5 separate regions of the Homo sapiens genome follow, and all the other regions are linked to region 2. Evidence: fine-mapped QTL for protein levels in blood plasma. A gene starts in region 2. Each other region holds a variant in brackets. All regions are shown on one strand. Distances are between the middles of the regions. Region 1 has its middle 19 kb from the start of CD177. Region 2 holds the start of CD177 (CD177 molecule). Region 3 holds the start of LINC03078 (long intergenic non-protein coding RNA 3078). Region 4 has its middle 21 kb from the start of PSG11-AS1. Region 5 has its middle 6.1 kb from the start of LINC03078.

What was found. PIP is the chance, under the fine-mapping model, that this variant and not a neighbour inherited with it causes the effect. Protein levels are from the aptamer-based SomaScan assay of Sun 2018.
Region 1: its variant is fine-mapped to the plasma level of the CD177 protein (Sun 2018, PIP 0.95).
Region 3: its variant is fine-mapped to the plasma level of the CD177 protein (Sun 2018, PIP 0.95).
Region 4: its variant is fine-mapped to the plasma level of the CD177 protein (Sun 2018, PIP 0.95).
Region 5: its variant is fine-mapped to the plasma level of the CD177 protein (Sun 2018, PIP 0.95).

The regions. Positions count from the first base shown.
Region 1 is chr19:43,369,341-43,375,323 of GRCh38, reverse strand. It overlaps the pseudogene CD177P1. Among named protein-coding and RNA genes, the nearest start is that of CD177, 19 kb to the right of the region's middle. The variant T/A (reference allele first, on the strand shown) is at 3,162.
Region 2 is chr19:43,350,327-43,356,309 of GRCh38, reverse strand. It overlaps CD177 (CD177 molecule), which reads right to left and starts at 2,624. Exons shown (of 9, transcript NM_020406.4): 1 at 2,544-2,624; 2 at 2,317-2,457; 3 at 1,918-2,103; 4 at 527-649; 5 at 202-318. The coding sequence starts at 2,595.
Region 3 is chr19:43,328,160-43,334,142 of GRCh38, reverse strand. LINC03078 (long intergenic non-protein coding RNA 3078) reads left to right here and starts at 2,635. Exons shown (of 2, transcript NR_186343.1): 1 at 2,635-2,799; 2 at 4,635-5,154. The variant C/T (reference allele first, on the strand shown) is at 3,219.
Region 4 is chr19:43,130,923-43,136,905 of GRCh38, reverse strand. No RefSeq gene overlaps it. Among named protein-coding and RNA genes, the nearest start is that of PSG11-AS1, 21 kb to the left of the region's middle. The variant A/T (reference allele first, on the strand shown) is at 3,369.
Region 5 is chr19:43,334,637-43,340,619 of GRCh38, reverse strand. No RefSeq gene overlaps it. Among named protein-coding and RNA genes, the nearest start is that of LINC03078, 6.1 kb to the right of the region's middle. The variant C/T (reference allele first, on the strand shown) is at 3,382.

The sequences.
Region 1 (5,983 bases), 19 kb before region 2:
CTGCTCTGTGATGGCCGTGAGGGGAGGCCAGGGGCTGTGGTTTCACACTAGAGCCTTGAGGGCCTCGGGGCCAAGGTAGCCGAGGATGGTCTTCAGTACCTGTCTCCCTCCTGCTCCCAACCCCGACCCTGAGGGTCCAGAGTCCCTGGGTTCCCAGCCTACCTCTGCCACTCACAAGCTGTGTGGCATGGGCAGCTACTGAGCAATCCTGCCTCTGTTTCCCTTGTTGCAAATGAGGGTGTTGATTGTGATCACACCACCTACTGCTGGGGTGCTGTGGGGAAATGAGGCATCCCAGATAAGCTGTGTTCCCTGGAACCTTAGATGGGTGGATCTGTGGGAAGCAATGAGGTCAGCCAGGTGCAGAGGCAGTGCTCAGCGGCAGTGCTCAGCCCACCCTGGCCCTTCGCATCTTGTTTGGAACATAGGGCTTTGCAACTGAAAGGTATGAGAAAGGTCTCAGGCTGCCTTCCTTATTATTGAAATGAGGACCTTAAAGCTCAGATGGGGAAGCAGAGATGGGCAGAGGCTCAGGAAGAGCTTCCATTGCTCTCACAGCTGAAGCAAGGAATGGCTGTTCTCACAGGGCTGTGAGAGGACGTCCCTGCGGGTGTTCAAGCAGAAACAGGGAACAATGGGGGTGGGGTTTGGACTCCCAAGTCCCTTCTGAATCCGTGGTTGAGGGACTCCGTGGCCAGGTCACCTGGAGTGTGACTCAAGAGCATGATCACCTTCCCTAGCCCAGGACGTGGAGGGACAGACATGGTGGGTTCCTGGCTTACACAGACCCTGGGTTTCCTCTCCCCAGATGTTCTGACCTGTCATCGGGGGACCACCTTGAAGAAGCAGGAAAACTTGAGTAAAGAACCCACTGATTGGGCCACATCTAATACCGAGACGTGCGAGGTGGGGCAGGTGTGTCAGGAGATGCTGCTGCTCATAGATGTAGGTACGTGGACTGAGGTAGAAGACGAACACCTGTCCCAAGTCCCTGGCAGCTCCCTCCACCCCACTGGATTCTTTCCCCTGAATTTCCTGCTCAGCTCCCTTCACATCTGCAATTTTCAATCCGACTCTTCTTCTCTCTGCATCTTGGGTTCCCCTTATGAAAACTGGGGGTGAAGCAGTGGGAATGACAGTGTCTGCCTTTCTGGGGAGGGGTGACCACGTATGCGGTAATCCCTGCCCAGGGTGGAGAACCGTGCCAACACCGAGGACTCTCAGTGGCTTCATACATTCTGGAAATGTTTATCCAGCATTTGTTTTAGGTGCCGCAGATCCAATCCCATCTGTATTCCTGCAGCTTTATATGCCTTGAGAAACAGGAAACAAACAAACAAAAAGCAGCAAAGTATGGGGAATGGAGATCCCAGCTCTGGAGAGAAATCTGGCAAGGAAAAGGAGATAGGAAAAGTGAGGGGAAGGCTGCAATTTTAAGCTCAGTGCTCAGGGGAGACTCATGGAGAAGGTGACGTTTGAGCGAGAACTGGGAGGAGGCAGAGCTTCGGGCAGGACCCAGGCCCCAGCCTCCGTCTTTGCCCCACACTAAACATGACCCAGCAGTTGTGATCAGGGCATTCACCCTCTGCCTGGGGGGTATTGTGAAGGGCAGGGAGTCCAGCTCTGGAGCCCCTGCTGCCCTGGGAGCTGCCCAGTCCCCAGCCCAGCTTTCCCTCTCACCCTCAGGACTCACATCAACCCTGGTGGCGACCTAAAGCTGCAGCGCTGTTGGGGCTCAAAATTCCCAGAAGACCACCATCCACTCAGCCCCTCCTGGGGTGCTTGTGGCCTCCTATACCCACTTCTGCTCCTCGGACCTGTGCAATAGTGCCAGCAGCAGCAGCGTTCTGCTGAACTCCCTCCCTCCTCAAGGTATGGGATCCAGGGCCGTGGAGAAATGAGGCCCAGACACACAGAGACTCTGGCCCAAGGTGGGCAGCTGCTCTGAGCACAAAGTCATGTACCCCCACCTTCCCTCTGCTCCCCAGCTGCCCCTGTCCCAGGAGACCGGCAGTGTCCTACCTGTGTGCAGCCCCTTGGAACCTGTTCAAGTGGCTCCCCCCGAATGACCTGCCCCAGGGGCGCCACTCATTGTTATGATGGGTACATTCATCTCTCAGGAGGTGAGTGCTGCAAGCAGGGCCCCAAGGATGAAGGCGCTGGTGTCCTGGGCTCCTGGGACTGAGGGAGAAGGGGCTGGGGGCCTGGACTCCTGGGTCTGAGGTAGGAGGGGCTGGGGGTCTGAGCTCCTGCGTTTGAGGGAGGAGGGTCTGGGGCCTGGACTCCTGGGTTTATGAATTTGGCTGGGCTGTACTCTGTGTCCTTTCTGACTTGGTCTTCTCCCTCTAGGTGGGCTGACCACCAGAATGAGCATTCAGGGCTGTGTGGCCCAACCTTCCAGCTCCTTGTTGAACCACACCAGACAAATTGGGATCTTCTCTGTGTGTGAGAAGGGTGATGAGCCGCCTCCTGCCTCTCAGCATGAGGGAGGTGGGGCTGGGGGCCTGGAGTGTCTCACTTGGGGGGTGGGGCTGGCACTGGCCCCAGCGCTGTGGTGGGGAGCGGTTTGCCCTTCCTGCTAACTCCATTTCCCCCACGATTCTTCACCGCTGCTCACCACCACACTCAACCGTCCCTTGTGCTTGTAACCTAATGGCCTTGGACACCAGATTATTTCCCCATCCTGTCCATGAATCATCTTCCCCACACATAATCATTCATATCTACTCACCTAATAGCAACACTGGGGAGAGCCTGGAGCAGCCGGACTTGCCCTGTGGGAGAGGGGACACTGGAGGAGTGGCTGCATGTGTCTGATAATAAAGACCCTGTGCTTTCTCCCAGTGCTGGGATTTCTCCATGTAAGGGGACAGCAGGACGCCCAGGGATCTAGCATGGTGGAGGAGAGGAACCTAATGAGAAAATGGCCATCCAAAGCCTGCCCTTCATTGGTCTGGTTCATGTCTCCAAACCAGCTTGGATGGTAGCAGAGACTTCAGGGTGCTCCAGCCAAACGTATTTGGGCATCACCATGACCTGGGAGGGGAAGATGCACTGAGATGTATGAGGCTTCCAGCCTAGCAGCCAGGGCCCTAGCACAAACAGGGGGCTGGCCCCATCTGAGCGACTGCAGGAGAGGTTAGTATAGTCATGCATTGCTT[T/A]ACGACAGGGACGTGTCGTTAGAAATGTGTCGTTAGGTGATTTTATCACGAAAGGAACATTGTAGAGTGCACTTACACCAACCCAGATGGTACAGCCCAATACACACCCAGGATGGATGGTAGAGTTGACTGCTCCTAGGCTACAAGCCTGCAGTGCATGTTATGGTGTGAATACTGCAGGCATCGTAACACCACGGCAAGTATTTGTGCATCTATACACATCTAAACATAGAAAAGGTACAGCATAAATACACTATTGTCATCTCAGGAGACCACCGTTCTATACGCAATTCGTCACTGACCCAAACGTTGCTATGTAGCATCTGCCTATTGTGGGATAATTGACATAAGGGCTAAAGAGAACTCCAGAAAAAAATGGGTTAGCATTTTCCCAGAGCTGTTACCATTGGGTATCTCTTACCACCATAGCCCAAAAAGGGTGAGGAGAAGAGCCACTGCTGGAATCTGCAGACAGAGAGAGAGAGAGAGAGAGAGACATAGACAGAAAGAGACAGAGAGAGCTGGAGAGAGAGCCGGAGACAGAAAGAGAGAGATATTCAGAGAGGGTTGCCTAACAAGAGCTCCCATCTCAGGCTGAAAAACGCGTCCAGCCCGCAATGATACTGGGGAGGGAAGTGGGGAACTAAAATTCCAAACTGATGTCCTCACTCTGGTCTCCAGTTGAGGTTCCCCATTGACTGAACCCCCTAGAGGCCACAGAAGCAGGAGACTCCACTGGTCCAGCCCCCATAGATCTGCCATTCACAGTAGAGAACAGAGGAGAGGAAAGGGAAGAGGAGAAGAGAGTGAATCTGGAGAAGGAAACAGAACACGTCTAGCACCGTTCACTCCCTTGCCCCTCGGCATCCACCCTTTCCCTTTGTCCAGATGAAAATCAGAGTCCAGGACAGGCTCGGTGGCTCACGCCTGTAATGCCAGCACTTTGGGAAGCTGAGGTGGGAGGATCACTCGAGCCCAGGAGTTTGAGACCAGCCTGGGCAACATAGTGAAACTGCTTCTCTACAAAAAATACAAAAAATTAGCCGGGTGTGGTGGTGCGTGCCTGTCTGTAGTCCCAGTACTTTGGGAGGCCGAGGCGGGCAGATCATGAGGTCAGGAGATTGAGACCATCCTGGCTAATACCGTGAAATCCAGTCTCCACTAAGACAACAAAAAATTAGCCGGGTGTGGTGGTGCACGCCTGTGGTCCCAGCTACTGAGAAGGCTGAGTCCAGAAGGTCAAGGCTGCAGTGAGCCAAGACTGCACCACTGCACTCCAGCCTGGGGGACAGAGCGAGACCCTGTCTCAAGGGGGAAAAAATAATCAGAGTCCTCCGTACAGACGACACACAATTCCAGTCCTTCCCTCTGTCACAGTAACAGTGTGTGATGGTGACAGTGATGTCCTCCTCCCATTGTGCTGTGCACCAGTTCTTCGCCCACAATGAGAGGAAGATGGGGAAGAGATGGCTTCCAATACAGCTGCTGAGGTCCTGGGGGCGGGGCTGCTGGTGCTCAGAGCTGCTTTCTTCCAGTACATTCCACATTGTCCTCCCACCTCCAAAACCTCCTTTGGATGTTATTTGTTACCTGCAGTGTAACCCAAATCTTGATTCTTATGGAGAGTGAGTCTTGGATGGCCTTGTCTTTAGTGGGTTTCTATAGTTTTCCATGGAACAGGGCCCTGGCCAAGGAAATGTTACCGCCATGAGTTGCCTGCCTTCGAAAATAGCCTCCTTGTCCCAGCCACCCGACCTCCCTCTGTAATCAGATGCCATTCCCCCGACTGCAGAGTGACGTCTCCTTTGCCTGCTGTTTTGGCAGCACAAGGGGCACAGGATGGCTGGAGGGCTGTCATGGCTTCCTGCAGATCAGAACTAGGAAGAGATTCCTCATCCACAGCAGCCCAGGGCCACGGGGACAAAGAGCAAGCATTCTCTCAGTGGGCTGGCAGGTGCAGTCACGGGAGGGAGCCGCGCTTATTCTTCCTGTCTTTCCTGGATCTTTGCATCTGGCCCTGGGGCGCGTGACCCGATAGCCTGGTTGCTGGTTTATAAGATGTGTGGCCCCTCCTGTGGGTGGTGGGGTACGGTCTCCCTCCCGGTGCCCTGATAAGCCACACATGAGCCATTGCGCCAATCTGAGAAGCAGCTGTGTCTGTATAGAGGGGCACCTGAGACGGTCAGTGGGTTCCATGGGTGTGAGTTAATTACCCCCCATTCTTTGCGTTAACACGTGTCCCCAGTGGAAGCAACCCTGCATGGGTTCCAGAGCCACAGGAAAGGCGCTGTTCACAGAAGCACTGAGCAGGGTCCAGGGAAGGCCAACTGGAACCCCCAGTGTGTGCGTATCCGTGTGAGGACAAAGCCCAGTCCCCTCCAGGATGGGACGTGTCCTGTGTGGCCAGCCTATCTGCAGTGGCCGGGTAGTCCTCCTGTAAAATGACGCCTTCCAGGGGCTTAGCCCCGGGCTCTGCCTACACTGGGCAGGGCTGGGTACAGTGTGCAGCCAGGCCAGTGCTGGGAGACTCAGTCCACTTGTGGTAAGGTACGTCGCCGTCCTCCCTATCCATGTGGCCATCTGCACCTGGACCCCCTGAACAAGCTCTGAGGGACAGAGTCTGCCTGACACCATCCACCAAACACCAAGAACCTCATCCCCACAGCACAGGTTCTGGGCTTAAGGGTGGGGACGGCATAGCTCACACTTTGTGCCCATCCCCAGAGGAACATCCATGTGTCCTCCCTGTCTTAAGTTTACTCTTTTATTCTCTTCAAGTCCTTGACCATGTGGCCCGCTCTGGGTTCATGCAATGGACCCAA
Region 2 (5,983 bases):
TTGAAGCAACCAGTCACTCTCAGCAGCTTGAGAGCCAGCAGGGGCCCCAGCACTCACTGTTGCCTAAAGCCACATGCCAAGCAACCCACCCTGCACCCTTGACCTTCCTCCTGCTGGCTTTGGTGTGATGGCTCTGGATGCCCCATGTGTCATCGTGCCCCGAGGCTGCAGTCCAGGGCACAGCCTAGGGGCAGGACTCACCTTTCATATCGCAGTTCTCAGTCATACCCACGGGCCCAATTTCCTGTGTCCCATTGAGCAGGTTGCAAACTGGCTGGGGCATGCATCCCTGGACTCTCAGATTGGAGAAGATGCCTCCTGCAGAAAGGGGGAGCGAGGGAGAGTCAGTGATGCTGCCTCCAGGACCACCCAACCCTCAGAGGCAGGCATAGCTCCAGGAAGCCAGGCCCACCCTCCTCTGGGTCTCATGCCGTGCCTCAGCTCACCTCACTCCCCAAAGCCTAAGATCTCAGTCCCCAGACCTTCCAGTTCAGTCCCCACAGGGACCCCGATGTCCCAGGCTTACCTCCCCTGAGCCTGAGGAGGCCATCATAACAGTGTGTGGTCCCCTTGGGGCAGATCTCTTCTGTTGTCCCCTCCAGACAGCCTTCCATAGACAAGCAGACTGGGCACCTCAAGGATCCTGGGTCTAGGAAAGTGACAGACAGAGTGAGGGGGCACTGAGAGGGCACTGGATTTGATCAGATACCTTCTCTGCACCCCACTTTTGCTGGCCTCAAGAGTCAACCTGCTCAGCCTTCCCAAAGGGGCCTTCTGCAGCTCCCATCATGGGATCTGGATGTGGGAAAATAAAGAAGTGTAATCCATAAAAGAGGAAGGGAGAATGAACAGGAGGTCTGGGTAGAGGCACCCAGGGCTGGGTACAGAAAGTGGTCTTGGCTGGGTGTGGTGACTCACACCTGTAATCCCAGCACTTTGGGAGGCTGAGGCAGGTGGATCACGAGGTCAGGAGTTCAAGACCAGCCTGGGCAACATAGTGAAACCCTGTCTCTACTAAAAATACAAAAATTAGCCGGGCGTGGTGGCAGGCTCCTCTAGTCCCTGCTACGTGGGAGGCTGACGCAGGAGAATCGCTTGAACCCGGGAGTCGGAGGTTGCAGTGAGCCGAGATTGCGCCACTGCACTCCAGCCTGGTCGACACAGCGAGACGCTTTCTCAGAAAAAAAAAAAAAAAAAAAAAAAAAGAAAAGAAAAGGGGGGGTGTCTTGGGTGGCAAGTGGGGGTGGGGGGTGGGCAGGGTGGAGGAGGGGCCTGCTGAGGCCAAATGTAGACTCAGACATGGTCAAGTCTGAACCTTTCAACAAAGTCTGGCCTTCCGAGGGGAGACACAGAAGCAGACTCATTGGTCAAGGGAATGAGGGGGTGCCCTGGAACGAGCCAGTGCCTTCACCTGCAAGCGCTACTAAACCTCCAAGAACAGGAGACTTCTGTGTTCACAAGCTGTTCCAATAAAAGAAGCGCAAAATATCTCCCTAGACTCTTTATAACACCAGACAAGGAAAGTGGAAAGTTACAGTTCAGTCTCCCTTAGGAAGAGGAAATAGCAAAAACCCTGCAGGAGAACTTCTTGAACCAAACGCAACAGAATAAAAAAAGAATGCAGGATAACCCAGTTAATGGTGATTTCATATCAGAAATCCGTCCTGTTTGCTCTTAGAAGAGGAGGGGTGCGGGGATTCCCGGGTGGCAGGTCGGTGGGAGGGATCGGGAGTGAGTGGGGAGGGATGGAAAGGGAGCGGGGCGGGGCGATGGTCAGGGAGCAGTCAGGGGAGGGATGGAGCCAGCGAGGGTCGGGATAGCGAGCGAGGGTGGGAGGGACTCCGTAACAGCCCCTCTGTGCTCAGCGGATCCCCTTCTAGCAGCCCCTCCCTCTCCTCCCGACCCTCCCGCAGGCACCTGCTGGGGGCTGTGGGGCCCAAAGCGGGAGGGAGTTAACGAGGTTGTTGCAGAAGTCCTCCTGGCGGCACACGAAGGTGTAGGAGATCAGGGAGAGGCCGGGGCCCATCCGGTGCTCAGTGACGCGGGGCTCCTGGTCCTTGGCCTCCGTGCAGCCCTTGGAGAGCACCAGGCTCACTTGGGGTCCTGGACCGAAAGAGGGAGGCAAGCGAGGATGGAGGTCAGGCCTCCAGGGTCCTGGAGGGAGACGCTGCTACACGGCGTAGGCTGAGAGGCTGGAAAGGGGATCACCGGGACCCTAGGAGTCGATCCCCCGGAGGGGTGGCTCCCGGGTCCCTGCACAGGGATCAAGGGACTGAGGGGACAGGGCGGGGTCTCTGCACGCCAGGGCCTTCTCACCGCTCTCAATGAGCATCAACGTGTCCTGGCACCCCAAGCCGCTGTCGCAGCTGGTGTTCTTAGGGGTCCATTGCCGGGGCAGGTCGGACACCTTCCACACATGCTGAACTGTCCCAAACTGGCAGAGCAGCGCCTGCACTCCTGGAGTGGCAAGAGCAAATCCATCTCAGCAGGGTTCCCTTGCCCGGCCTCCAGGGAATCTCCTCCAGGCTGGGCTCATCACTCACCTGGCAGTGGGAGGATGAACCCCAGGAGGGCCAGCAGTAATACCGCGCTCATGACCCGTCTGTGGCTGGTAATCTCTTTCTGCTTTTTCAGCAGGAAACAAGTCCTTTATACCAGCCCTTAAGCAGCCAGCCCAGAAAAGGGTGGGGAGGGGAGGGCCTTGCAAAATGGAGGCTTGGGCCCCACCCCAAGTCTCAATGGCCGCAGTGGCCTATCAGGGACCCCCTTTCTTCCTCAGACCTTCGGGTCCAGGCATCCAGCCCCTCCTCCCTCAGATGGAGGGTCCAGGACCCCCAGCCCCTCAGCCCCTCCTCCTTCAGACCCAGGAGTCCAGACCCCCAGCCCCTCCGCCCTCAGACCCAGGAGTCCAGGCCCCCAGTCCCTCCTCCCTCAGACCCAGGAGTCCAGGCCCCCAGTGCCTCCTCCCTCAGACCCAGGAGTCCAGCCCCCCAGCCCCTCCTCCCTCAGACCCAGGAGTCCAGGCCCCAGGCCTCCCTCTCTCAGACCCAGGAGTCCAGGCCCCGAGGCCCTCCTCCCTCCGACCCAGGAGTCCAGACCCCCAGGCCCTCCTCCCTCAGACCCAGGAGTCCAGGCCCCCAGGCCCTCCATAGTTAGAAACTGTGGCATCTTGACCCGAGGTTCCCCCGGTCCAGACTCCCAGCCCTCTTTCCTCCTGAGCCCAGCTATGTGGATCACCACCCCCACCCTCTTTCTCCAGTAGTTTGGGAAGGCAGTTTCCTCATTTCTCATGGGCTCCCTGGCCACCTCTGTACCCCAGATGGGGAAATGGCCCAACTACCTGTGAGGACGTTGTGCAGTGGGCATCAGCTTGTCCCCATGTCTTCCGGTCCTAGTTTCTACCCTCCACTGTCTTCCCACTTCTCTGTTCTTTCTCTTTCCTTCTTATATTGCTTTCTTTTGATTCTTCTTTTCATGCTTTTCTCTCATGCTTTCTCTTCTATTCTCTACCCTCACAGTACAACATAGGACTCAAGTCCCCAGTTTCCTACCACCAGGAAAGGCTTGGCCAGAGGTGGAGTAGAGACTGAATATCTATGAAAGAATTAGGATATATCTGAAAAATGCAACATTTATTTGCTGGAAGCCGATGGGAGAGCAGTGTTGTGCTGAAAAACCAAGTTTTCTGAAAAACAATACCCACAAATCCTGCCTCGTAGTGTTGGCCTATTTCTCTGGTGTAAATACTCATAGCATGTCTGATTTTAAGCTACCTACAGTTTGCCAACCAGGCTGATGAAATCCCTAGCTATTTAACCATGGGCTTGTCCAGGGCTGTACAAATCAGCTGTAACACACTGGGGTGGCGGGGAGGAAGACAGGAAGGAACCTGGGGTATCTGTCAGTGACTGCAGAGGGACGTTGTGGGTGTCTGTGACGGAGAGAGGAGAAGCAGAAGAGGGAAGGCGAGAGCAGGAATAGCAGAGAAAGAGAAATGAATGTGACTTGCAATTATATGTTTATTTTTGACATCTCTATAAATTTTATCTTTATTTGTCTTTGCAAGTTTATTGCAAGTTTAATATTTGCCACACAGACAGGGAAGTGTTTGTCTGATCTCCTGCTATGTCTCCACCACCTACATGGCATACAGTACATGCCCAGTAATTTTTTTTTTTTTTTAGAAACAGAGTCTTGCTCTCACCTATGCTGGAGTACAGTGGTGCAGTTGTAGCTCACTGCAGGTCACTACAGCCTCCATCTCCTGGACTCAAGCAACTCTCCCACCTCAGCCTCCCGAGTAACTGGGACTACAGGTGCACACCACCATGTCTGGTTAATTTTTGTATTTTCAATAGAGACAGGGTTTCACTATGTTGTTCAGGCTGGTCTCAAACTCCTGACCTGCGGTGTTTTCATTTTGAAAAATTTCAGGCTGGGAGCGGTGACTCATACCAGTCATCCTAGCACTTTGGGAAGCCAAGGCGGGTGGATCTATTGAAGTCAGGAGATTGAAACCAACCTGGACAACACGGTGAAACCCCATCTCTACTTAAAAAAAAAATACAAAAATTAGCCCGGTGTAGTGGCAGCCACCTGTAGTCCCAGCTACTCCGGAGACTGAGACAGGAGAATCGCTTGAACCCAAGAGGCAGAGGTTGCAGTGAGCCGAGATCGCACCACTGCACTCCAGCCTGGGCAACAGAGTAAGACTCCATCTCAAAAAAAAAGACGGAAAAATTTCAAACCGGCAGAAAAGTTGCAAGGATAGTACAGTGAACACAAGTATCCCCTTCACTGGATTCACCCACTCTTCACATTTTATTGTATCTGTTTATACACACACAACATATGCTTTTAAAATATTCTTAAATTTTAAAAACAAGGAGTAGACATTGTAACTCTCACCACTAAGTGCTTCAGCAAGAACCTTCTTAAGATTATTCTTAAGGGGGCTGGGCACAGTGACTCACACCTGTAATCCCAGCACTTTGGAAGGATCACTTTAAGTCAGGAGTTCAAGACCAGCCTGGCCAACATGGTGAAACCCCATCTCTACTAAAAATATAAAAATTAGCTGGACATGGTGACACACAACTGTAATCCCAGCTACTTGGGAGGCTGAGGCAGGAGAATCACTTGAAGCTGGTGGTGGAGGTTGCAGCAGTGAGCCGAGATCACACCACTGCACTCCAGCCTGGGTGACAGAGCCAGGCTCCATCACAAAAAATAAATAAATAAAAAAATTTTTAAAAAGCATATATCATTCTTTTTTTTCCTCTCTCTCTCTTTTTTTTTAGATGCAGTTTTGCTCTCTCACCCAAGCTGGAGTGAAGTGTCGTGATCTCTGCTCACTGCAACCTCCGCCCTCCAGGTTCAAGCAATTCTCCTGTCCCAGCCTCCCGAGTAGCTGGGATTACAGGCGCCTGCCACCACGTCCGGCTAATTTTTGTATTTATAGTAGAGACAGGGTTTCACCATGTTGACCAGGCTGGTCCTGAGCTCTTGACCTCAGGTGATCCACCTGCCTCGGCCTCCCAAAGTGCTAGGATTACAGGTGTGAGCCACCACGCCCAGCCTATATAGATTATTCTTAAGGACTTTGTCCTGCGTAACCACAGACCAGGATCAGACCCGTGTAGTTTACACAGATGCACTGTTGTCTAATAGGAAGCCCATTTCCAGTTTTCCTCTGTTGTCCCAATGACATCTCTCATTGCGTTTTTGCTTTCTGATCAGGAGAACATCCGGGGTCAAGCATGAACTGCACTGCGTTGTCTTTATGAAAGAGAAACAAAAACTCAGGACCCCAATTCACTGTGACAGAAGGAAAAAAAAAAAACTGGAAGCTGAGTCATGCAAGAAACTGCCTTTCCTTTTGTTCCTAAGCAGACAGCTACAGAGAAAAGGTTAAGTATCTCCGTAGGTAGCTACTCTATGTTCATCTTATCTTTCTTTAAAAAAATTTTTACTTATTTATTTT
Region 3 (5,983 bases), 22 kb after region 2:
TCTTCATCTTTTGAAGATGAATTTTGTGTCCTTTAGGAGTGTTTTAAGAGTTTTCTCGTATAGGTTTTACAAATTTCTTGTTAAGGGTATGCCCAGGTGTTTTATCTTTATATTGTCATAATAAAAGAGGTCTTATATTACACCTTCTATCTGAGTATTGTTTCTGTGTATAAAAGTTATTAACCTCCTTATGTTAACTTTACATCTTTCTATTAAATTCTTGCATTGATTAGTTTTTCACTATGTCTGGAATTTCCTAGATATATAATCACATATTGGTTGTGAATTGGTATAGCTTATTCTCCCTCTTTCTAAGTCTTATATCTCTATTCGTATCTGTACCCCAATTTCATTGGCCAATGCCTCCAGTACAATATTGAGTAACAGCAGTGACAGTGGGCATCAGACAGGGACACAGTTGACCTGGAGGCAGCACCCCCAGTGCTGTGATGGAGGAACACAGGGCATTCTGGGGACCACCTACCTCCCAGGCTGGCATCCTCTCTCTAAAGCCCCCAGAGATACCTCCCTGAGCCCTTCCTTTGAAACCTTGGGGACAGGTGGCTCCTTCTAAGGCAGCCCATCCTCCTGGTGGACAGTTCTCTTGAATCTCGACCTGCTGTTCTCTGGATAACTCCTGTCCTCTCCCTGGGCTCATCTTGCACTGCATGGAGTTGGGCAGCCTGGGGACCTGCAGTGAACAGGACCTGGGGTGACCTGACCCTGCAGTCTGGAGGTCAGATCCCACTTCTGCCCAGGGGTCAGGGCCAGCTCATACCATGCAGACCCTGGTCAGTGTCCCTGGGGCAGCCCCTGACAAGGCCACAAGTCTCCTCTTGCCCTCCAGGGGGCGACATCACACACAGATAACACTCAGGAAATGGATTCCCCTGGACAGGAACCTGGCTTTGCTAAGGAGGTAGAGGTGGAGCCTGGTTTCCAGCCCTTGCCCCAAATGACCCTTCTGGTCCCTGCCATGTGCCTGCTCCTTCATGGTGCCTGCTCTGCCAAGGGTTTTTGTGCAGCTCCCCACTTCCTCCTGGCATCACCCATGGGGAAGGTGTGGTAGCCACAGGACACACACACACACACACACACACACACACACACACACAGACAGACACAGTCTTTCTATCTCTCTCGCCCCCCCAACCACCTGCAAGGTTAAGGGGTGAACATAGGGAGAACATGGACAGGCCCTGAGCCACAGCTCAGCCAACAGACACAGAAAGGGAGGGTCTCCATGAAGCCTTCCCCAAGGACAGCAGGGCTCAGAGCCACCCACCTCCCTCCACCACAGTCCTCTCTACCCAGGACACACAGGACAACTTCCTCCACACCCTGGAGCTGGAGCTCCACCTGAGTCCAGCCTGGGTCTCTTTGGGTCAGAGGCCAGGCTGGTGACACTGGAGACAGAGGGCTGGTCCCTCCCCAGTCATCCCCCAGTGAGCTCCTTTCTATCCCCCAGAGCCACCTCTGTCACCTTCCTGCTGGGCATCATCCCACCTTCCCAAGCACTAAAGAGCATGGGGAGACCTGGCCAGCTGGGTTTCTGCATCACAAAGAAAGAATTCCCCAGGTTTGGATCCCCAGGGTTCTGTGTGTGGAGCTGACAGACCTGAGGCCAGGAGATAGCAGAGGTCAGCCCTGGGGAGGGCGGGTCATCCTCCCAGGGGACAGGGTTGCACCAGCCTTGCTACTGAAAGGGCCTCCCCAGGACAGCGCCATCAGCCCCACCTGAGAGCTTTGCTAAACAGCAGTCAGAGGAGGCCATGGCAGTGGCTGAGCTCCTGCTCCAGGCCCCAACAGACCAGACCAACAGCACAATGCAGTCCTTCCCCAATGTCACAGGTCACCAAAGGAAAACTGAGCTGCTACCTGACCTTCGAAAGATAATAGCCGATTTCCCAAACAGGCCAGTTTCAATCGCATGACAATGACCTCCCCTCTGCTCTCACCGTTTCTAAAACAGGAACCTGATTCTCCCCCATCAGAGATTTCTCCCTTGTTCCATGAGCCTTTCCCGAGTGGCCCTGTTTTTTGTGTTTGCTTTCCGCAGCCCTCCCCTCTCTATTAAACCCGCGCTTCTGCTCAGCTCCTTGACCCACGTATTGTCTCATGGGATGAAGTCTCGCCCGATTTTAGGACGGCAAATAAAGCCACTTGAAGTCTTTATCTGTGCTAGTTTGTCCTGTGACAGCTCTGTGTATCTGTATGTGTACATGTGTCTCAGTTTCAATGAATCTGAGTATATATGTGTGTGTGTCTGTATATGTGAGTGTTTGCCTCTATGTCTGTATATATGTGTATATGTGTTTGCCTGTATGTCTGTATATATGTGTGTCTGTGTTTGTGTCATGTCTGTGTGTATGTGTGTGTGCATCTCTGTGTGTGTCTCTGTGTGTGTCTCTGTGTGTGTATATGTGTGTGTGTGTGGACAAGTGTGGAAGGAGAGCCATATCTGAAGAAGGCAAATGGCCTCAGCAGGTCCTAAGGACCAAACACACACAGAAGGGAAGGGGAAGCAGGAACCAGAAGGCAGGACTGAGAGGGGAGGGGACAGAGAAGCATCCTGGGCAGAGTCCCGCCCCTGCCCCTGGCCCTAGGAAGTGCTCCTGCCCTGAGAGAAGGCTCAGCACAGAGGGAGGAAAGACAGCAGAACTGGCAGTCACAGTAGCTCTGATCATCCTGGAGCTAAGCTCCTCTCCACAGAAGAGAAGCAGGCAGCAGAGACCATGAGGCCCCCCTCAGCCCCTCCCCGCAGAGGATGCATCCCCTGGCAGGGGCTCCTGCTCACAGGTGAGGGAGGACTCCCTGGGAGAGGGTGGGAGGAGGAAGCACAGAGACTGGCTGGTGTCTCCTGGGGAGGACGGAGCTTTGAGAGGGGATAGAAGGCTTCTGTTGAAGCCTGAATAGGGGAGAGGACATCAGAGAGGGACAGGAGTCACAGCAGGAAAATTACATTGAACTGGAATTGGAAAGGGGCAGGAAAACCTCAATTGCTCCGTGTTTCTAAGGCAGTAATCAGTGGCCACTAAATATTGAAAAATGATAAGGAAAGCAACCATTTATGTCACCATGGCACTGCAGAAAACAAACCTTCCCAGGGACTCCTGGGAAACCCCCTGCCTGGTCTGAGACCCGCTCTGAGGAAGCAGAGGGTAGGCTTGGGCCCAAGAGAGGCCGACCATGCCACAGGTGGGGGCAAAGGGGTGCTC[C/T]GGGGGAACTTACAGCCCAGGCAGGCTTGGGTAGCAGCAACGCAAGGAAGGCCCCCTACGTGCTCTGCACGCCTCTCTGGCATTTGATATCATGAAAAGAAAAGGAGAGGGAGAAAAGGGAGAGAAAAGGAAAAGAACATTCTTGGCATGTGGAGCCATCTATCGCTTTCTTAGTCCGTTTACTCTCTACTTAAAGGAAGCCTCTCCCTGCTACAATCTGGGTAACATCCATAAGAGGCGGGGATGTCCTGGGCAGCAGCAGCCATCTGGGGTCCTGAGTGTTCTCTCCCTTGGCCACCTCCTCCACCTCACTTCAAGGTCCCTGTTCAGAACACATTTCCACAACAGCACAAACGCTGTCCTCACCTGCCTACCTCAGACATTGGCAAATAAACTAATGTTTCTCATGGTTTAACACCATCTTCCTTGGTGCTGTCATTATGATAGTGAGTTCTCATGAGATCCAGTTTTCTGAAAGTGTGTAGGAAAGCATGTGGTAGAAAAGAAAAGCCCATGTTCAGGGGAGGAATTCAAGCAGGCTGCAGAAATTTGCATAAGTAAAGGGAGCGAAGTGCTAATAGCCAAAACAATAAGGAGAAGGCCTTAAAGGCATTTCAGAGACCTTTGCAGCAGCCCTTCCCATCACAGGACCAGAGGCCTAGGAGGACAGAATAAATTTTGGGCCAGGCCCAGGGCTCTGCTGCCCTGTGCAGCCTCAGGACACTGCTCACTGCATCCCAGCTGCTCTAGTCATGGCTCAAAAGGGTCAAGGTACAGCTCGGCCTGTTGCTTCAGAAGGTACATGTCATAAAGCTTGGCAGCTTCCATGTGGTGGTAACCCTGCAGGTGCACAAAGTGCAACAGTTTAGGCTTGGGAGCCTACATTTCAGAGGATATATAGAAAAGCCTGAATGTCCAGGCAGAAGCCTGCTACAAGGGCAGTGCCCTCATGAAGAACCTCTACTAGGGCAGTATAGAAGCAAAATGTGGGGTAAGTGTCTCCACACAGTTTTCACTGGGCCAGGAGCTGGGAGAAGATACCCACCATCCTCAAGACCCTGGAATGGAAGAGCCACTGGCAGCTTGCACACTGCACCTGGAAAAGCCATAGGCACGCAATGCCGGCCCATGAGAGTAGCCATGAGGGTTGAGCCCTGCAAAGCCACAGGAGTAGAGCTTCTCAGGGCCTTGGGAGTCTAACCCTTGCATCAGTGTGCCCTAAATGTGAGATATGGGGTCAAAGGAGATTATTTTGGAGCTTTAGTTTTAAAGACTGTGCTGCTGGGTGTCAGACTTGCATGGGGCCTGTATCTTATTTCTTTTGGCTTATTTCTACCTTTTGGAATTGGAGTATTTACCCAATGCCTAAATCCCCATTGTATCTTGGAAGTAAATAACTTGTTTCTGATTTCACAGGCTCATGGGCAAAAGGGACTTGCCTTGTCTCAGAAGAGACTTGGGACTTTGGACTTTACTGGTAATGCTGGAAAGAGGTAATGGACTGTTGGAAAACCATTGTTACATTTTGAAATGTGAGAAATGTCAGGCCTCTGAGCCCAAGCCAAGCCATCGCATCCCCTGTGACTTGCATGTATATGCCCAGATGGCCTGAAGTAACTGAAGAATCACAAAAGAAGTGAAAAGGCCCTGCCCCGCCTTATCTGATGACATTCCACCATTGTGATTTGTTCTTGCCCCACCTTAACTGAGTGATTAACCCTGTGAATTTCCTTTTCCTGGCTCAGAAGCTCCCCCACTGAGCACCTTGTGACCCCCGCCCCTGCCCACCAGAGAACAACCCCCTTTGACTGTAATTTTCCATTACCTTCCCAAATCCTACAAAACGGCCCCACCCCTATCTCCCTTTGCTGACTCTCTTTTCGGACTCAGCCCACCTGCACCCAGGTGAAATAAACAACCATGTTGCTCACACAAAGCCTGTTTGGTGGTCTCTTCACATGGACGCGCATGAAATTTGGTGCCATGACTCGGATCGGGGGACCTCCCTTGGGAGATCAATCCCCTGTCCTCCTGTTCTTTGCTCCGTGAGAAAGATCCACCTACAACCTCAGGTCCTCAGACCGACCAGCCCAAGGAACATCTCACCAATTTTAAATCAGGTAAGCGGTCTCTTCTTACTCTCTTCTCCAACCTCTCTCACTGTCCCTCAACCACTTTCTCCTTTCCACTCTTCAATCTCTCCCTTCTCTTAATTTCAATTCCTTTCATTTTCTGGGAGAGACAAAGGAGACATGTTTTATCCGTGGACCCAAAACTCCGGCGCCGGTCACAGACTGGGAAGGCAGCTTTCCCTTGGTGTTTAATCATTGCAGGGACGCCTCTCTGATTATTCACCCACGTTTCAAAGGTGTCAGACCACGCAGGGACGCCTGTCTTGGTCCTTCACCCTTAGCGGCAAGTCCCGCTTTTCTGGGGAAGGGGCAAGTACCCCAACCCCTTCTCTCCTTGTCTCTACCCCTTCTCTGCTTTTCTGGGGAAGGGGCAAGTACCCCAACCCTTCTCTCCTTGTCTCTACCCCTTCTCTGCTTTTCCGGGGGTGGGGCAAGTACCCCAACCCCTTCTCTCCTTCTCTCCACCCCTTCTCTGCTTTCCTGGGGCAGGGGCAAGTACCACTCAACCCCTTCTCCTTCACCCTTAGCGGTAAGTCCCGCTTTCCTAGGGGGCAAGAACCCCCCAATCGCTTATTTCCATGCCCCAACCTCTTATCTCTGCGCCCCAATCGCTTATTTCCATGCCCCAACCTC
Region 4 (5,983 bases), 220 kb after region 2:
TATGTAACAGTAAGTTTATCCATTTATCCTTTGGTAAGCATTTGGGTTCTGCTCCATTTGAAGTTATCATGAATAATGCTACAATGAATATCTGTGTACAGGTCTTTGTGTGGATGAATATATGTTTTCATAACTTTTTGGTATATATCTATAAATGGAATTGTTGAGCCATAGGGTAGTTATTAAAAGTAGTTGCACCATTTTATATTCTCACCTCAATACATGAGCATTCCAATTGCTCCACATCCTCATCAAAACTTAGTATTGTCAGTCGTTTTAACTGTAGCCATTCTAATGGGTAGGAGTATCTCATGGTTTCACTTTTTATTTCCTTGATAACTAATAATATCGAGCAACTTTTCCTGTGATTGCTAGCTATTTGCATTTCCTTTTTTGGGAGATTTTTGTCCAAATAATTTGCTCATTTTCTATTTTTTTTTTTTTTGCGTGTGTTTTTGTTTTATTTTTGTCTTTTTATGTTGAGTTTTAGAATTCCTTTACATATTCTGAACACAAATACTTGGTTTCAAAGTCAGTGAATTGCCTTTTCATCTATCTTGAAGAGCAGATGTATTTTTGATGAAGCACAATTTATGATTTTTTAATGTTTAGTGCCAGGTATTTGTAGAAGGAGTCTTTGTCTACCTTTGCTTTATTGTAAAAGCTTCAAAATTTTAGATTTTATGTTCAGGTCAAATCTCAGTTGATCTTAATTTAATGCTTGTGCAGAGTATGGAGTAAGGGATCAAAGTTCATTTTTATCCATATAGGTATCCAGTTTTTCCAATTCCATGTGTTGAAAAAGACTATTCTTTTCCCATTGACTTGCATTATCAACTTTGTTTAAAATGAATGGACTGCGTAAGTGGCAGGAAGTTTTGTTTTGTTTTTTTTTTAAATATAATTGAGCCTTTAAAAAGGCCAATCTTTGTTAAAAGTTAAACAAAAGTTAAAAGTGATGATGACAAAGTCCTAACTGGCTGTCCTTGTGGCTTCAAAGCAGATGATGGAACAGTGGAGCGAGTTTAGCATGGAAGGGTGAAGGAAGCTTTAGGGACATTCATCATTACATCTCAGGGGAAAGCTGAGACTTTCTTTATACCCGGAGATATATGTCAGCCAATTCTGTTCAGGTTGCATAGCCTCTGATGCCAGTTTCTGAGCGTTACCTATTACATCTGTCAGAGACATTTGAACAAGAGCAACTCCATCTTGAATAAAGGCTGGGTAAAATGAGGCTGAGACCTACTGGGCTGCATTCCCAGACACTTAAGGCATTCTAAGTCACAGGATGAGACAGGAGGTCGGCACAAGATACAGGTCATGAAGACCTTGCTGATAAAACAGGTTGCACAGAAGCCAGTGGAACTCCACCAAAACCAAGAAGACAACGGGAGTGACCTCTAGTCATCCTCACTACTACCTTCCCACCAGAGCCATGACAGTTTACAAATGCCATGGCAACATCAGGAAGTTACCATATATGGACTAAAAGGGGGAGGTATGAATAATCCACCCCTTGTTTAGCATATCGTCAAGAAATAACCATAAAAATGGGCAAGCAGCAGCCCTCACGGCTGCTCTGTCTATGGAGTAGCCATTCTTTTATTCCTTTACTTTCTTCATAAACTTGCTTTCACTTTATGGACTCGACCTGAATTCTTTCTTGGTGAGATCCAAGAACCCTCTCTTGGGGTCTGTATCCAGACCCCTTTCCTATAACACATCCACACTAATTATTTTATTTTTGGCAAAATAATGTTAGAGCCAGTAACGTCTGAGAGGCCAACGTTCCATGGCCTCTCGCATATGAGGAAGGGCCGTTTACAGAGGGACTAAATGAGTCACCCAGTGTCACCTTGTCAGTGTGTGCCAGAGCAGAACTGTGCCCAAGTTAGAGAGTGGCCTCCCCTCTACTCAAGCATGTTCCAGAATGTGTGTTTTGCATACTGTTTGTCCCACAAGATGGCCTGAGCAGGGGCTGTGCAGGTCTGGGATGTGGGGTGCTATGCTATTCTCCTGGAAATACTCTAAGCTTTTCAGCATGGTTAAGGATTTGAGAAGTGTCCAACACAGAACACTGTTTGATTTTGTTTAACTCAGCTTCCCCAATCTCATTTCATCACGGAAGCCTTTTATCAAGTAGCTTGTATTAACTTGCTTCAAAACATTCCCCAAGAGATGTGGATCTAGCACACTATGGGGCAGGTCATGTTAGTTTTCTCTTGTCGTTATTCTTGTTATCTGGATGGCAAACATTTACATGGGCTATCAATACTAGGTTGTGTTGGCCGCCATGAATCTAAAACCCCTGGTAGGTTTTGGTATTTCCTAAAGATGATTTACTTAGACTCCTATAGCAGAGTAAAATGAGAAGGAAAGATAGAAATAGCCAGTGTTTTGGTGAGGACTGACATAATGATTTTTTAAAAATGCACCTGATTCTGCATTCTGAATCCTCCAGCCTCCTCAGCATGGGGATGGAGAACTGGAATGGGGCAAGACACACACATGCACATGCACACACACACAAGCAGACACACACCCACAGAAATAGTCCTCTGAGGATTCATTTAAGATTGGCTTAGAAGAGCTTTAGAAAAAAAATGTGAACCTTTCTGAAACTCTCAATGCCTCATAATTAATCTTTGTTGAAATAACATTTTCAAGACCCTTTTTAGGAGCCTGCTCCCAGTCTCCATCATTCCTCCAGCCAATGAGTGCTGGTTAAAGTGAATGAGATCAAATTGCCAGTTAAGAATCTAAATGAAGGCTATTGATTTACTCCATTGCAATGAACAGGTTATCCCCAGAAGGTGGACTCTGAAATGCTTCATTGAATTCCACAAATAAATAAGGGAATTTCTCCCCACCACTGTAATCCCTCAAGTGCCAGTGTCTGCAGGGATATTTTCTTTTACAGCATACTAAATGAAAATCTATCAGGAGATTGAAATTGGCACTAATAAGTGAGCATTTCTCACCTCTATCACCTTGGGCTTGGGGAATGCCCTTGATACGTTCGATTCCTCCCCTTACATGGGGTTTGCGTGGGAAGTCTCTATTACTTAAATTGTATCTTTTCCATATGTCATTATTTAAGTGACCACTTTCCTCAAAATAAAGACTGAGAACCACCATTAGAAGTATGCTGTTATGAGCTGAGTTGAGGCCCCCTCTCCCATACCATACACTGAAGTGCTAGCCCCCAAGACCTCAGAATGTGACTGTATTTGTAGGTAGGGCCTTTAAAGAAGTGATTAAGGCAAAGGAGTCCAATCTTTTGGCTTCCCTGGGCCACAATGGAAGAAGAAGAATTGTTGTGGGCCAAACATAAAATACACTAACAATAGCTGATGAGCGAAAAA[A/T]CAGGTCCGTGTATAAATCTCATGTTTTAAAAAAGTATGAATTTGTGTTGGGCAACATTCAAAGCTGTCCTGGGCTGCATGTGGCCCTAGGGCTGCAGAATGGACAAGATTGGATTAAGGTAAAACAAGGTCACTAGAGTGGGCCCTAATCCAACAGGACTGGTGTCCTTATAAGAAGAGGAGATGAGGACATAGACCTACACAGAGAGGAACCACCATGGGAGAACACAGGGAGAAGACAGCATCTCCAAGCCCAGGAGAGAGGCCTCAGGAGGAACCAGCCCCGCTCACACCTTGTCTCAGATTTCCAGCCTCCAGGACTGCGAGAGAATCAATGTCTGTGGTAAGCGGCCCGGTCTGTGGCACTTTGTTATGTCAGTCCGGGCAAACCCATACAGATAGATGCTTATGAAATCTTCCCAGTTACATTTCAAGCAGCCCTTTTTACCCATTTCATTTGGTGGCTGGCCGAGCGGAGTACCTTTTAGTTCCCATAACTCTAGAACGGAGTTCCATCAGTGCCTCTGTTGCTGCCTCGTTCCAGTCAAGCTTATTTCTCTGGTACCGCTTGCCTTGTCTTCCAAGCCTGACCCAGTTTTTCCCCAGGACATCTTTACACAGACCAGCTGCTCCAACATTCCCACTGCTGACTTCACTCTCTTACTCCCTGGATGAGTCGGAGCCTCTCATGCCACCTTTAGTGATCATGTAACTTGGCCTTTGTGATCTTGTGACTGGGCAGAGTAACTTGGCTAGGATGCAAAATAGCCTGATTTTTTTGGATACAATTATGTACAGTACCTTGCCAATAATTTGAATTTTCTTGTCTCTATTAAGATATCTGTACTCAGTAATACATGTTTATGAGTTTTACCCTGGATAAAAAATGAGCCATTATCTTCCTCCTTGCAATATATAGACTATATTATTATTCTATATATAGACTATATATAGTAGTACAGAAAGACTATATTATCATTTGATGTATAGTCTAGACTATGTATCTTGTATATGTCTATATATTTTATTGAATGATAATATTATCTATCAGTACTAGACTATATATCAAATAATAATAAAGTCTATGAGTTTGCTAGGACAATATACAGACTATATCATTCTATATATAAACTATATGTAGAATAACATAGTCTAGACAATATATAAACAGTATATAAACTTTATATAAAATATATATAAACTATATATAGAATAATATAGTCTATATATAATCTATATAAGCTATATATAGAATAATATAGTCTATATATAATCTATATAAGCTATATATAGAATAATATAGTCTATATATAATCTATATAAGCTATATATAGAATAATATAGTCTATGTATAATCTATATAAACTATATATAGAAAAATAGTCTATATATAGAAAATAATATATTCTATATATAATCTATATAAGACTATATTGTAGTCTATAGTCTATATATAGACTATAATGTAGTCTATAGTCTATATATAGACTATAATGTAGTCTAGTCTATATATAGACTATAATGTAGTCTATAGTCTATATATAGACTATAATGTAGTCTATAGTCTATATATAGAATAACTATATTCTATATATTCTAAATATATAGGATATATTCTATATATATTATATATTCTCTTTACATGTATTCTCCTTTACATATATTCTCTCTATATTCTCATATATATGTGTGTGTATACACACACACACACACACACATAATGTCTTCCTGCTCTGCAAATGAAGTGTGAAAAAGTTATCTTAGGATAAGCTCAGAAAAATCAGAGAAATATTAGAAGACACCTGTTACATGGTAGGTTCTGCAGCAAAGGTTTACTTATTCGGTTGTTAGCAGGCAGCACTTGAGCCAACTTCCGCAGGTGTCAGTTTTCAGTGTTGGCTCGTGGCCACAGTTTTATCCTGGAGCAGCAGGCTCACCTGGGAGACCTGCTGGTAACCGGGCATAGGGGAGCAGGGCTGCGATGGGAGAATGAGCTGAATCTGCCGGGAATGGTTGTGGCATGAGATGCTGTGCAAGCTAAACACAGTGTGTCACTCATGTGCATGGTTTGGGTATCGTGGATGCCTGAGGGAATGCAATGAGAGGTTTCCAGGAAACCAATAAAAATATGAAGTCAAACTCCAGCTGGTGAGCATTGGCAGGATAATTAAGTTTCCTGAGGAAAGATTTCTTCCTAAGGGAAGATTTAGGTATCAAAATCCCAGTCATTGTAGACAGTACCACGGGACAGAATCCAATCCTAGAGGAGAGAGAATCCCACGTTTCCTTCTCAGACACACCAGGGTTCCCCAACCTTGATGCTATTGACATTTAAAAAGATTATTCTTTGCTGTGGGACACTGTCTGTGCACCATCAGCACTACTGACACTTAACAAGATCATTCTTGGCTGTGGGATGGGGTCTATGCAACATGGGATGTGCAGTATCATCCCTGGCCTCTTCCCACTAGATGCCAGTTGCACCCACTCCCAATGGTGGAAACCAGCAACGCCTCTAGATATTACCAAATGTTCACAGGTGGTAGGAGGGTGTGCATCACCCTGGATGGAGACCCATGGAGTGAGAGCAACCGCATGGGGGCCACGCAGAATCT
Region 5 (5,983 bases), 16 kb after region 2:
TTTGACACTAGCCTGGCCAACATGGTGAAACCCTGTCTCTACTAAAAATACAAAAATTAGCCGGATGTGGTGGCACACACCTGTAATCCCAGCTACTCAGGAGGCTGAGGCAGGAGAGTCACTTGAACCCAGGAGGCAGAGGTTGCAGTGAGCCAAGATCATGACACTGCACTCCAGCCTGGGTGATAGAGTGAGACTCTGGAAAGAAAAGAAAGGAAGGAAGGAAGGAAGAAAGGAAGGAAGAAAGGAAGGAAGGAAGAAAGGAAGAGAAGAGAAAAGAAAAGAAAAGAAGGAAGGAAAGACAGAAGGTACCCATTGGTAGAGAGACAAAGACAGAGACAGACAGGGAGACACAGAGATGAAAAGACACAAAGTGAACCACAGACACACAGTGAAGAGGAGACAGAGCCAGAAACAGAGACCTAGTGTGGTGGAAAGAGAGAGAGGCAGACAGACAAGAGCAGCATCTTCAGGGCGACTGGATGCCCCACGCCCCTGAGCTGCTCCACAGGGAGGGGGCTGAGCACACAGCCTGCATCCCATCCATCATTTCTTGGCCTTCATGACTGGGTGACCGTGCACAATCCAGTCCCCGTCTCTGAGCCTCAGTTTCCACACTGTAAACCAGGCATAGATACACCTCCTCAAAGGGTGGTGGAGAGGGCTGGGCTGGCTGTTTCTGCTTAATGCCCCCTCATGTTTCACAAAGGACCCCATGAACTGTGATGAAAGTCACTGTTCATTATCATGACGGCTTCCAGTACTTACAGCAGTCAGCACTAATGTCATGCACATCATCAGCACTTGGCATGAATCCCCATTCATTACAGATCAGTATTAATTGAGTCAATGCTCTGTGCCCGATACTTGTACACTCATAACATGGATTGTTAATTTAATTGAGACAACCACAGTCTGAGGTCAGTGATATCACGATCATCTCCACTTTCCAGACAGGAAGCTCTGCTGGTAAGGTGCAGAGCTGGGGTTCAAACCCAGGTGGTCTGGCTCCAGGGCCAGGTGTGCCCGGGAGCAGGGCTCTTCCTGGGTGTCCAAGGCCACCTTGTCTCCAGGAGTGTAACCGTGTTTCCAGCCACTGAAAACTTGGATTAAAGCCCAGACAAGGTAACGTTTGCCTTTTCTGGCTTTGGGGTTTAGAGTTTGAATTGAGAGACATTCTCCAGGAAAGCAGAAACTTCTTGGCTAAAATCCAAACCTTCTAGGGAATTTATTGCAGAGATGGGGAGGTGGTTCTCATTTCTGCCCTTCTCAGAGTATAGATTCATTAACTCAGGAGATGCAAAAGGTTACATTTTCCATATTCCTTTTCTCAACATGATAATATTATACCCCTTTCTGCCTAGTTTTATGCTTCTTTTGCTCTTGGTGCCAAAGAAACTGTAAACCTTTGTCTTAAAACTGGAGTCCCTTCCAACTGCTGGTGACAGAAATCCCAGCAAGATAAGAAGGAGCAAATGTCCCCGCTTCCCAGACAACTTGAGATATAAGCAGATCCTATTCATCATCCTACAATGTTCTTGCAAAGATTATTTCTATCAATGGAGCTCTGTAAAACACCCAGACTCCAGAGACCATCACTTGGTCCTGTGAAGGTAGCTCTTAGCCTTCAAAAATCTGAAATTCAGATGAATTGCCTAAGTTACATGTATTAATCCATTGCCCAGGGCATACTATGTAACTAGACAACTCCGTTTTCTGGAAGATGTACATACTTATGACATTTGTTTGTTAGTCTGGAAAACTGCCTTTCAGGGAGGGAATGCTTTTCCTCTATCCACTTAGGTTCAGTATCTGGAGGCCTGTGAATTAAACTAACAAAAGACCAATTAACAACAGAAAGGGCAGAGAATTTTTATTACATGCATGGGAGTTCACAGAAAAGAAAAAATGAAACGGCTAGACTTGTGGGGCTTATATACCATTTTAACAAAGGAAAGGGGCTTGTTCTTCAAAGGGTGATACATCATGGGACAGTGACCCGGAAATACCTGGGGCACTGATGGAGATGCAGGTTCTGTTAGTGAGGTCGGTCTATGCATACTCATCTCAGTGTGGACTCGCCATCTCCAGGATGAGTTGCTTTTCTTAATGGTCTGGGGAGGAAACACCTTCCCAAAAGGAAATATATGCCCTGCTTCTAGGTAGATAAGGAGAGGGCAGTGCTCTTCCAGCATCTGTTGATTCTCAATGGCCTTCAGCTCAAAACAATCCTTATACCAACGTGGTACATTTTGGGGTGACTTAACTTGATCCCTTTCAGGCCACTGATGAGTCCATCTTTCCCCACCCAGGTGGACACAGGAAGAACCTGTGATGGATGGATTTCTTATTCAATGGATGGATTTCTTACTTAAATGTAGGGGCTCTTTAAGAATCATTCATTAATTCACTGTGCACTCCCTGAGCTCCTGCTCTGTGCCAAGCCCTATGCTGAATGATACTAAGACCCCAAAATGAATGAGACCCATCCCCGCTCTCAGGGACTTCTCATTCCCAGGAAGGGCAGACAGAAAAGGGTGCTCAGGCCCATAAGAGGGTGTGGTGACAATGACTGTGGCTAGGCTGAACGACACCTCTCAGAACTCTCTTCCCTGTAGGTTCCTGTTAGGGTGGGAGCGGGACACACCTGCCCAAAGCAGCCGCCGTTGTGCATTTCATGCTGGGGAAATCCAGGCAGGAGCTTCCGTGGCTCAGGTCCAGGTGTTGCTCATCTGCTAGCTCGGCTGGTCAGCCTGGAGCAGCAGCAGGACCTGAAACTGCTCCACCTTTACCCCAATCCTCCTTCAGTTTCTCCACCTCCTGAGCCAGGTGTGCGTTGACCTCTGTGACAAAGGTCACTCCTGCAGGTCCCCTGCACCACCAAGATGAGGCAGCAAGAATAGAGGCAGGTTCTGTGGGTCCCGAAACCTTCCACCTTGTGTGGGCTCCTGGCTTGTCCTTACTCCCCACTTTCCATCCATCTCCCCTTCCCCAGGGCCTGCCCTGCAGACTTGGAGCTCAGGTCAGATGCAGAGCCCACAGCCTCCTCACAGACTTCCATCAGCCAGAGATGGGATCCTGACACATTCCACCAGCGCCAAGTGGAGAGATATTTAGGTATTTAGGGGTCTGAATGAGGGGCAAACTGGCCCACCTGGAGCGGCAGGGAAGGTTTCCTAGAGGAATTCCTGCTATTCCTCACTGCGCTTCCAAATTTTAGTCGTGTTCCACTTTTACGATCTGAATAGCACTTGCACTGCTATTTACTCAAAAATTTTCCTTAAAGCAACTCACTGTTTTTCTTTGGCCTCATCTTAAAACAATAATGTTTATCCAATCATGTGATTAATATGCTATTTTCAATTATTTTTCTCTAATAGG[C/T]GCTTAATCACAAGCATAGCCTGTAACGCTTTTTAACAACTGTCGTGTGTAACCCCTTAGAATCATCTCACATGCCCTCAGCCACTGACACCTGAACCCTATTTTGGGAAACACTCCTTTAGGTGAATTTTGAAGGATGAACAGAGGTTTACATGGAACCAAATGGAGAAAGGGGATTTTGTACTGAGAGAGCAGGTTAAGAAGTTTCCTAGAAGATGTGACAGAAGCTGCATTAGTTATCCATTGTTGCCTAGCAAATTACCCCAGGGCTTCAGGGCTTAAAACAGCAACAGATATTTGTTACCTCTCAAATTCTGTGGGGCAGGAATTGAAGAGTGTTTGTTTTCAGCTTTTTATTATGAAGCTGGGTGATTGTGACTTGGTGAGTCTCATGAGGTTGGAGTAAAGAAGCCAGTCAGGGTGCAGTCATCTGCAGCTTTACTGGGCCTGAAGGGTCTGCTTTCTAGGAAGGTCACTCGCAGGGCTGACAATGTGATGCTGGCTAGTTCCTACCTCAGGGCCTTTGCACTTGCTGTTCCTGTGCCTGGGGTGTCTTTCATCTACTCTTTGTATAACTAGACCCTTCCCATCCTTGATGTCTTTGCACCAATGCCACCATCCATGACCTCTGATGCCACCAAGTTACTTTCTTACACATCATCCTTTGTTTTCAACTTTTTATTATGAAAATTTCAAACATCCAGAAAAGCGGAAAAAATAATACCAAGAATACCCGCATCCTCTCCTTATATTCAAGTTTAACATTTTGCCATATTTCCTCGTTTTTTTCTGAACTGTGTCAGAGTAAATTGCAGGCATCAAGGCACTGTGTCCTTGAGTGACACTATGTCCTTGAGTGCTTTAGCGTGCCTCTCCCCAGAGTGACTGGCCCACAATCCCATGATCACACCTGAGAAAATAAACAATAACTCCCTAACCCTATCTAATATATAGTCCTTTTTCAGTCTTCCCCTTTGGTCTCCAAAATGATTTTTCCATCTGTATTTATTTATTTAATTTATTTTGAGACAGAATCTTGTTCTGTCATCCAGGCTGGAGTGCAGTGACAGGATCTCAGCTTACTGCAACCTCCACCTCCCAGGCTCAACTGATCTTCCTGCCTCAGTCTTTAGAGTAGCTGGGACTATAGGTGTGTGCCACCACGCCTGGCTATCCATGTGTATTTTTAAAACTGGAATCCAATCAAGACTTATGCCTTATATTTGGTTATTATATCTCTTACATTCTACAATAGTTCACCCGCCTATTCATTTTTTTGTGACTGCTAAAGACAGCATGCCCAAAGTGAAGTCAACTCATGCTAAAGTTCCACATGCTTTTTTTTGTTTGTTTGTTTGTTTTTGTTTTTTGAGATGGAGTCTCACTCTGTCGCCCAGGCTGGAGTGCAGTGGCACGATCTTGGCTCACTGCAAACTCTGCCTCGGGGGTTCAAGCGATGCATTTTTTTAATCCTTTGTTCTGAATGCAATAATGACTAAAAGATTTTCACAGAAACTTCACAAAATAAGATATACGAATAGCTAATATGCACAGAAAAAAACTACTCAACATCATCAGTCATCAGGGAAATGCAAATTAAAATCACAATCAAATGTTGCAACCCACCAACCAAATTCCTGAAAGTAGAAAGACAAGACCCCAAATGTTGATGAGGATATATGGAGCAACCAGAACTCTCATATACTGTTGTTGAGAATGTAAAATGATGCAACCACTTTGGGAAAAGTCTGTCCCTTTCTTATACAAGTAAACATATACCTACTCCATAACCCAGCAATTTCATTCCTAGGTATTTTACCCAAAATGAATGAAACATGTGATCATAACAAGACACATACAAAGATGTTATTTTGTTTTATTATTATTATTTTGTAGAGATGAGATTTCATCATGTCTCCCAGGCTGGTCTTGAACTCTTGGCCTTAAGGGATCAGTGCCTCCTTGGCCTCCCAAAGTGCTGGGATTACAGGCATGAGCTACTGTGCCCATCCAAAACATACACAAAGTTATTTTTAAAAGCAGATTTATTCATAATAATAATGGTCCAAAACTGAGGAAATATTAAAACAAAATACCCATCAATAGGAGGATGAATAAGCCAGATGTGGTATATTCACACTGCTGAATATTATGTTGCTATAAAAAGTAATAAACAAGGCCGGGCCCGGTGGCTCATGCCTGTAATCCCAGCACTTTGGCAGGCCGAGGCGGGTGGATCACGAGGTCAGGAGATTGAGACCATCCTGGCTAACAAGGTGAAATCCCATCTCTACTAAAAATATTTAAAAAAAAAAATTTATCCAGGTGTGGTGGCGGGCGCTTGTGGTCCCAGCTACTTGGGAGGCTGAGGCAGGAGAATGGCATGAACCCGGGAGGCGGAGCTTGCAGTGAGCAGAGATCATGCCACTGCACTCCAGCCTAGGCGACAGAGCGAGACTCTGTCTCAAAAAAAAAAAAAGTAATAAACTACTGATAGAGGCAACAAAATACTTCATTCTCAAAAACATTTTGCTGAGCAAAAGAAAATTTAACCCACAGGAAAACGTACACATTGTATGATTCTATTTATATGGAATTCTTC